Homo sapiens: one gene and its partners. The protein of the gene in region 1 purifies or fractionates together with the protein of each later gene. This does not show direct contact. Each region holds a gene or a part of one and is shown in the gene's direction. Other genes may lie near its edges.

Evidence for each region.
Region 2: the proteins of KLKB1 (region 1) and TOR3A purify together in Homo sapiens (affinity purification with mass spectrometry; one large-scale study listed by BioGRID and IntAct). This does not show direct contact.
Region 3: the proteins of KLKB1 (region 1) and NID2 purify together in Homo sapiens (affinity purification with mass spectrometry; one large-scale study listed by BioGRID and IntAct). This does not show direct contact.

What each region holds. Positions count from the first base shown.
Region 1 is NC_000004.12:186,233,920-186,237,579, forward strand, and holds part of KLKB1 (plasma kallikrein isoform 1 preproprotein), read left to right. Parts: intron 1-32; coding exon 33-139; intron 140-2,861; coding exon 2,862-3,021; intron 3,022-3,660. UniProt on the Homo sapiens protein: Participates in the surface-dependent activation of blood coagulation. Activates, in a reciprocal reaction, coagulation factor XII/F12 after binding to negatively charged surfaces.
Region 2 is NC_000001.11:179,094,249-179,096,622, forward strand, and holds the end of TOR3A (torsin-3A precursor), read left to right. Parts: intron 1-719; coding exon 720-970; 3' UTR 971-1,748; downstream 1,749-2,374.
Region 3 is NC_000014.9:52,059,002-52,062,661, reverse strand, and holds part of NID2 (nidogen-2 precursor), read left to right. Parts: intron 1-2,305; coding exon 2,306-2,538; intron 2,539-3,660.

The sequences.
Region 1 (3,660 bases):
CTACTTCCTAAGTAAAGCTACTTTTAAAATAGGTTTGGTTGCTTCTTGAAAGATAGTGTTACAGGAACCCTGCCAAAAGTACATCGAACAGGTGCAGTTTCTGGACATTCCTTGAAGCAATGTGGTCATCAAATAAGTGGTAAGTTGTGAATTTCTTAGCTACATTTGAGTTAATATTGGATCTCGCTTAGAACAGCTTTTGCTCAAAGTTTGTACTGCTACAGCTTTTTGGAAGGCATCACTCATAAAGATAGGAGATGGGGCAGTATTCTGGACACAAAAGAGGGACCCATATTCATCTGGACACTTCTATTGTCTTTATAAATCAACACATACTTAATGAGCCTCTATTATTTATGAGGTTAGCGCTCAAGTGTAAGATTTGCAGAAAATGAATCCAAATAATTGTGTCTCGTTTCCAGATAAGAATTTTTAAGAAAACACAAGGGAACATCTCTCTCAAGTTCACTTGAGGGTAATTTTTACATCAGTGATTCTCAACCAGCAGTGATTTTGTCTCTTCCACTGGGGACATTTGACAATGTCTGGAGACATTTTTGGTGGCTACAACTAGGGAGGATGCTATTAGCATTTACTAAGTAGAGGCCAGAATGTTTGAATGCTGACCAACATTCTACAAGGCACAGGGCAGTCGTCCACAGCAAATAATTTTCTGGCCCAAAACGTCAACAGTGCTGACATCAAGAAACTCTGTGATATACCACTAGGCCCAAATTGAAGAACTGAGTTCTGCAAATCTTGCTAAGAATAATACTTCCTAAAGGAAACTTGAGGACTAGGATGCTAGAGAACTTTGATTCTGACATCTGAAGCTACTGATGTCTTGGGAAACAGTTTCCAATGCTATCCTAATAAATTTAAGACAAATGAACTATTTCTCAAACATGACTGGGACTGATAAGAAAGTGAAAAGTGCTGAAAAGATTCAACTGATGGGTTGTCAGAATCTTAAAATAACTGCTGTTATTCTATGTATGACTATATATCATTACTATTTTATTTTCATTATGCACAATTAATTTTGTAGGTTCAAATTTCAGATGTTTTTAAATTTGTCATCCTTTCCTCCCTCATTGATATCACCTCTTCAATACGTACACACTTTGAGCCTGCTGTTTGCATTTTAACCAGTTATCAAAGGATGGCAATGCCTTCATTATAAATGTGGGCCTGACTTAGCCAGTATAATAGGTGTAGTCTACGTGAGGTGGAGTACATTTCCTATTTTAAAAGATCAATTTTTATGTTAATCCAATTTGGTATAAATTATTCGAGTAAGTGCTATTTCTGATTGTTGTATCTTGTAGCAAAATTTAAAGAAAAAGTAATTTGTGCCTTTCTCAATATTCCTGTTATTGTTCATGTATTCTAAAACTCACTGTTACTCACTTAGCTTGCTTTTAATGTTTTTTAAAGTGAAAAATTGTTCCCAAGTACATAAAATCTCTACACTCAAGAACAATTCTAGTCAAAAGCATTTAGAGCTTCCGTATGAACACTTAAAGAGTTTTTATTTGTAAGAGTCGCATCCCAACTCTTAGCCTGTTCTTTTCTCACATGCAGAAAAATAGGAAAGAGACTTCGTTTCCACAGTCTGCAAATTCCTGTGTTTAAGAACCACAGTGAATAATCCACCTCCCTGCCCAACTCATCGTACTGTCATATAGTTTTCCTGACAGTTTGTGTATTTTCTGTCTTTCCCACCCTTAAATTTAGTTTTATGACTTCAACCATACTTCTTAGGAGTGGAAAGGTATCTGTAGTAGATTATGGTTTATTCCACATAATCTTGGGGAATAAAACTTTAAAAAAGTATACAGTTTATACTTCTGGTTACATTACTTCCTTAACCAAAAGTCTAACCAAGAAATTTGAATCTTTAAAAAAAAAAGAGGCCGGGCGCGGTGGCTCACGCCTGTAATCCCAGCACTTTGGGAGGCCGAGACGGGCGGATCACGAGGTCAGGAGATCGAGACCATCCTGGCTGACACGGTGAAACCCCGTCTCTACTAAAAATACAAAAATTAGCCGGGCGTGGTGGCGCGCGCCTGTAGTCCCAGCTACTCGGGAGGCTGAGGCAGGAGAATGGCGTGAACCCGGGAGGCGGAGCTTGCAGTGAGTCGAGATCGCGCCACTGCGCTCCAGCCTGGGCGACAGAGCGAGACTCCGTCTCAAAAAAAAAAAAAAAAAAAAGAGCCTAATTTTGCTTCACTGTCTGTGAAAAGAATTATCTGTATCTTTTGCATGTAAGACAAATCTCAATGAAAAGGGTGCTTAAATAGAAGTTAACACTATTTTAAAGCAAGAATGGAAGTGGTTTCATCATGCGTAAACAACAACTCTCCACATTTTGTAATGATTGATCTGGATGCAATTTGTCATCAGACAGGAGAAGTCGAAAGCAAAGAAATAACACTGGGAGATAGAGAAGCTCTTTCATTCAATGCGAAAGGTCAAAGGCACATCAGTTTCTTTAATAATGCAAACCTCAGCACACATTATCAGTGTCCTCATTATTATTGCCTTGTTTATTTCCCACTGCTCATTGATAATTTCAACGTGAAATTTACCTGTATTGCTGCATGCATCTTGCAGTTTAAGAAGTGAAGTAACCCAATTTCAAAGCTAGTGCTTTAGGGAAAATATTGGATTGTATTTACTTCAAGCAGAGTTCGATAATTTATGTACATAATAAAAATTTTAAATCCCTTAGTTAATATAGCAGTTGCCAAAACTGGGCTATTATCATTCTAAACTACCAACCCAAATGGTAGTGGGTATCTAATCTACCTCTAGAAAGAAAATGGACTGTATTTGCTCTATGTATTTTTCTTGTACAGCTTGCCATCGAGACATTTATAAAGGAGTTGATATGAGAGGAGTCAATTTTAATGTGTCTAAGGTTAGCAGTGTTGAAGAATGCCAAAAAAGGTGCACCAGTAACATTCGCTGCCAGTTTTTTTCATATGCCACGCAAACATTTCACAAGGCAGAGTACCGGTGAGTACAATTCAAGGTGTGTGTTCTTTGTATTGGTGCCTCCAGGATTTCACTGTATTCTTCTTAACCTCTTTTGTTCCCAAACTAAAAACCAAACAGGGCTTTTATTCTAACCACTTTCCTCATTTACTTACTCTATTTTATTTTTTTATCTTTTATTTATTTATTTATTTATTGAGATGGAGTCGCGCTCTGTCGCCCAGGCTAGAGTGCAGTGGCGTAATCTCGACTCACTACAACCTCCGCTTCCCGGGTTCAAGCGATTCTCCTGCCTCAGCCTCCCGAGTAGCTGGGATTACAGGCGTCCGCCACCATGCCTGGCTAATTTTTGTATTTTTAGTAGAGTCGGGGTTTTACTATGTTGGTCAGGCTGGTCTCGAACTCCTGATCTTGTGATCCACCCACCTCAGCCTCCCAAAGCGCTGGGATTACAGGCATGAGCCACTGCGCCTCGCCCTTCATTTTTTAATTAAATAATTCATTTAATTTCATTTGTTTCTCTACTCTTTTCCCCTGGCATGTAATTGTACCGCATCTTCAAAGCCTGACATCCTCTTCCCCTACTTCTCCAAAGCTGATTCTTGCAGGTCTTTCCTCAAATACCGTCCCCTCCAAAAGCCCATTTCTGAGCATTCTCTT
Region 2 (2,374 bases), on another chromosome or scaffold:
GAGCCACAGCTGGTGATAATTAATGTGTTTGTTGGAATGTGTGTTTATGAAGCAGACAGGGTACTTGGGAACACAGAGGGCAGACTATAATCATCTCACATTGTCAACCCTGGGTGGGCACAAGAAAAGTGGTAAGAAAGCCTGAGCTCCTTTTCTGGGAATGCTTGGAAATAGTAGTTTGCACTGGCCCCAAGAACAGGCGCAGTGGTCTCTGAAGCCTGAGACTCTGAGTCTCACTGCAAGACTTTACCTAAAGGAGACACAGCTGTAGAGTTCTTGACATACGCTGCAGACAGCACTCCTGGAGTTGAGAGATGAGATCCAACCTCACCCAGCCCCTTCAGTCGGGGCCAGGTGTGGTGGCTCACACCTGTAATCCCAACACTTTGGGAGGCTGAGGCGGGCGGATCACTTGAGTCCAGGAGATCTAGACCAGTCTGGCCAACATAGTGAAACCCCGTCTCTAGAAAAAAAACAAAAATTAGCCAGGTGTGGTGCTGTACGCCTGTGGTCCCAGTTACTCACAGGCTGAGATGGGAGGATCCCTTGAACCTAGGAGGTGGAGGCTGCAAGGAGCCCAGATCTCACCACTGCACTCCAGCCTGGTTGACAGAGCAAGCCCCTGTTTCAAAGAAACCAACAGCAACCCCCACCCCCGCTAAATTCCAGCTAGGTTCAGTCCTAGGTCAGACTCCATGTAACTTTGGTCTTGCTTTCAGACAATGGCTTTGGCCACAGCCGTCTTGTGAAGGAAAACCTGATTGACTACTTCATCCCCTTCCTGCCTTTGGAGTACCGTCACGTGAGGCTGTGTGCACGGGATGCCTTCCTGAGCCAGGAGCTCCTGTATAAAGAAGAGACACTGGATGAAATAGCCCAGATGATGGTGTATGTCCCCAAGGAGGAACAACTCTTTTCTTCCCAGGGCTGCAAGTCTATTTCCCAGAGGATTAACTACTTCCTGTCATGAAGGCTAGAGGAAGACTTCCTGGAACTGCCTTTCTTCCACTAACAGGACCCTGGGACCTGTAGGAGCACCCCGTTTGGGACTGTGAGGTGTTTGAGGGTGTGGACTGGCATCCAGCAGCCACTAACAAACACACAACTGGTGTGTAAAAGGCAGGCCTTACATTAGAAGCCAAGCCAATCCTTTTTCTTTTTTTTGGAGGTCCCACCGAGATAGATAGGAACTTGGATTGCTGAATTCAAAAACAGAGCCCATTCTTAAGATCACTTGGTGCCTTAAAGACACGCATTCCAAAGTGGAATGTGGTTGAAGAAAGTGGGCCAGGTGGTTGAAGAAAGCCATGTGGGAGCTCAGCAAATCCCAAGGGCTTATTATGACACTCCAGATGGTCTCCTTAGCATCTCAGCTCTTCTGCAAGGAAGAGCTTGGGTGTTAGGCCTCAGAGGCTGTAGGGTCCTTGGGTTACAGAGCCGGGGAGAACGAAGTTCTGTGACCCAGGGGTGGAGAATACACTCTAGGTTTGCAGGCTGGTGGGCTTTCAAATTGGTACTTCCAGAGGAAAGCCAAGCTGCTTCTGTTGTGAGCGAATCAGCCAAGAGCCTGAGGCTGAAGGGAAAAGTACACAGAGGAAGATATTTTACAAACCAGGTCAGTGTAGGCCAAGACTTATGGTCTACAGATTTTGGCGGGGGAGGGGGGACCTTTTCAAAGACAATAGGGGGTCTTGACATGTTTGTTGTATGTAAAGATGATAAGATTAAAATTTTTGATTTTCCTAAAATCCTTGGCGTACTTTCTGTTTCTGAGACCTAGCAAAATTTCAAACAAACACTGGGTAATCCTGATAAGGCCTGGCAGAGACAGGGCAGATGCTGGCACACACGGAGCTGGCAGGGTATGTGACTGGTCTGCCTGTCTAGTCTGTTTGCTTTGGGACCACATCAGTGAAGCCAAGTCATGCCAACCTCCTACTGAAGAGACTCCCATAGCACATTGCTCTTATATATGAAAATGTTCACTCCTGTACTCTCAGCTATAAAAAGAAAAGCAGTCATTCTGAGGATTAAATGGCACCGTGTAGACATGTAGCACTGTGCCTAGACACAGTGTTCATTATGTGCCTTTCCCCTTTTCTTGGTTCTTCTCCCATGCCTCTGGAATAACACAGGTCTTTTTTCCCTATGTTTTTTATATATTAATTATACACACATATAGAGTCAGGGTGTCACTATGTTGCCCAGGCTGGTCTGGAACTCCTGGGCTCAAGCTATCTTCCTGCCTCAGCCTCCCAAAGTGTTGGGATTATAGGCGTGAGCCACTATGCCTAGCCTTTTCTGTCTTTTCTATTTGTCATCATCTCACGTCCTTTCTTAATTTAAGCCTTCCTCACATTACCTGACATCAGGA
Region 3 (3,660 bases), on another chromosome or scaffold:
ACCAGGATTCTCTCCTATCTCACATTTATTATGGCAGATCAATGCCAGGAGCTTTGAAAGCTTAGCTTTTTGAAATGGGGTTTTTTCTCCTTCCTCTAGTACTTTTCTTTCCCTAGTTGATTTTTCTTTATTCTGACTAATGTATAACTCTGAAGTTATTGAGTCCACATTAGTTGATGATGTCGACTATCTTATGGATAGACATGAGGCAGAACAGCCTTTGTTTATATTTGGCAGTAGTTGTGGCTTCCTAGTATTGAGAAGCTCTAAAAACATTTCTTGCTTTTTGTTTTTGGAAAAGTCAAGCTTTGCTGATGAACAATCAACAACTGGAACAATAACAAATAAACTAGGCACCTGTTACTTTGTGAATTGAATGAATGAAAAAAGCAAAGCAAGATGTTGTTTTTTCTGGGTTAGAGAACTAAAAGAACTGCTGATTGTATTTTATTTTCTCTTGAAAAGTGTGTTACATCTATATTTCTTTATCCTATTAGCAAAACCTCAAAACCTTACTTTGAAATTAAACATTGAAAGGAAAAATTAACATTAGAAAAGAGCTAGAACAACTGTGGGAGTAGACTTAGAACAAAGGGAAGAGCCCATTCCTTCCTTGCTGTTTCCTTCAGTGAAATGTGATGTTCTTCTCTGTGCCCGAGTTTGTCTGTCTAGCAGAATGGAAAGGTAATGATACTTACCAGTAAATAATATTTCTAAGAGTCACATTATTTGTGAAGTAAGTTGTGTTTTAAAAATACCTTCCCAGTTCCTTACTAAATTGTAAAAGTAGTGTGATTTAGTGAGAGAGAGACAGTTTCAGAAGCCTAAACATAACAGCTTTTTGAGAATCAAGCACTGTTCACAGATCTTTAGGAGGAGCGGTCGCTGAATGAAGGTAAAGGCAAAAATCTCATCTTGTTGAAAATATGAGGGTAAACAGAATGTTAAGGAGTGATCCTATAAGGACCTGGGTGTTGAATTGGCAGCTGATTCAGGCTCCTGGTCCCTCTCTGGTCTGTGTTGGCTCCTGCAGTGTTTATAACATTCACCAGCTGCCTCTGTGACACCTCCCAACCTCCACCCTGAGATCCTGGACACACACCCCGGCTCTTGGCCTCTACCACCTTCTCCAGTGACTCTCCTACCATTTCAACCATGGCTGTTTCCCAGTCCTACACCGTGAGACTCTCCTGGGCAAAGCCTGTCTTTTGCTCCTTCACATCCTCAGCATCAAGCATAACGTCTGGTGCTTAAGTAGACACTTGGCTGTTTGAATTAGTGTATGAATGAATAAATGAATGGTGTTTACAAACATATAAACAACTAACCAAGCATAATGAGGTGAATGCTCACTAGAGATGCCCATAAAGGTGTTACAGAGGTTCAGAGAACAGAAATTATTCTATAGGGAATCACAAACACCTCTGAGTGGCAGCATTTGAAGGTTAGGAGGCTTTCTAGGCACAGGGAACCACGAACAAAGTGTAGAAGCATCCAAGGACATGGTACAAATGGGGACTATTAAATAGTCTGACAAAGATGCAGTGGAACTGAGCCTGGGAGGGACGTATGCAGCCAGGTTACAACTCACCTTGAATGCCATGTTGAGGAGGGGTTAGGGTGTCCTAGGGTGTGGGCTCTAGAGCTGGCTGGCCCACCACCACATACTTGCCACCTGACCTGAGGAAGACCTGTTAGCCCCTGTGTCTTTTTCTCATCTGTGAAATGAGGATAACCCTGATGCTCGTATGAAAGGGTAGATGGAAGAGGAAAGAGAGTGATGCTGTGAGACAGTAAGGAGGCCTTTTGACCAACTAGTGCCTAACACAGTGCCTGCCCATAGTGGTCATTTAATAAATGGATGAATGAATGAATGAATGAATGATGCAAATGAGAGATGCTGAGTGCCTAGGGTTATAAACTAGGGCAGTGACTGCAGGATGGACAAGTTAATTTTGCTGATTGCTCTTAGCTCTGAAAGAGTTTACATGAGAGAAGTTTGAAACCTTACAAAGTATATATTTTTTAACCTATGTTTTACCAATGCGTATTTCAACTATTAATCTAAATTGACAAATGGTATTTGCAATAATAAATAATATTGCTTATGAAATTATATTGTTAACTTGAAGAGGAAATTTTAAAGAAGGTTATGTTTAAAAACAATTTGGAGGAATCCTGAAAAAGGGGAAGTTCTTTGCACGTTATGATGCTTTGCTTGCATTCTGTTTCTTTCTTCTTTTATTTGTTTTTTACAGGATGTTTCTCTCTCTCTCTCTCTCTTTTTTTTTTTTTTTCCTCACAGCTGAACACTTTCCAGGCAGTTTTGGCATCTGATGGGTCTGATAGCTACGCCCTCTTTCTTTATCCTGCCAACGGCCTGCAGTTCCTTGGAACCCGCCCCAAAGAGTCTTACAATGTCCAGCTTCAGCTTCCAGCTCGGGTGGGCTTCTGCCGAGGGGAGGCTGATGATCTGAAGTCAGAAGGACCATATTTCAGCTTGACTAGCACTGAACAGTCTGTGAAAAATCTCTATCAGTAAGTAACATTGAGCTGAAGCCCTTTCCTATTTGAATATAAGGACTTTTAGGAAGTACCTGAACACAAGTGACCATAAGACCATTACATAATATATTGGTGGCTTCTAAGTAAGGCATCAAGTCAAAACCAAGGAACTAGATTCAACCCTGGAAGGATCAAGTTCACCAAAACATAAAAGGTCCTTTATTTTTCCTGCTCTATTGGGTATAGATACTGGAAACAGAACAGTATGTGTGTGTATTTGTAGAGCCACTGAGGCTTGCTATGAAAAACATTGCTCTTGGAACCACATAAAAATATCCAGTCATAAACTGCCCAGTTTGAGGTTTTCCAGATTAATCATTTCACAGGAGGAAACATTGTGATTTAGTCTTTTGGACAGATACTGTTAAACATTAAATTGAGCAATGTAATTTGCAGGAAAAATAACTAAGATTTATAGGTTTCCAGAAGTCTGAGGATGTCTCTCTGGCTTCATTACCTAAAATGAATTGAACCCATTCCTTAGACTCATCAGTGTCTGCCCATAATGGGCATTTAATAAATAGATGGGTGAATGAATGAATGATCCAGAGGGCTTACTTAGCTAGTGCAATAATAAGCTCTTCTGCATTTTGCCAGTACAGATAGTGCCAGTAGGATATTTATTGACTTCAGGGTTTTTTGGGGGGTGTGTGAGGGGAGGTAGGGGTGCCCTCGCTTTTATTCGTTTCCTGAATATAGAAGCCAGATAGAATACATTGGTTACTTCCTGGCCTCCTTTAACTGCTTCTTGACTTCATTAAATCAATCCTGGGTAGGTATAGAAACACCTTACACTTTTAGCATGCCATCCACTCTGCTCGGCTACCAGAAAGAGACCACTATAGCCAGGTTTGCTTACTCAGAGCTGACATTTATTGAAAACTTACTACTTGCCAAGCATCATGCTAAACACTTTCCAGATGTTATCTTAATTAAAACTCACAAGAATTGTAGGTTAGTACTACTATTTTCCCAGTTTTACAGAGGAGCTTAGGGAAGTTAAGTAAATTGCCTATGATCTCAAAGTTAAGTGGCAAAGCCAAAATCCAAGCTCAAGTCTGGAGTGCTGAACTACTTATTTTATCTTATGCTGAG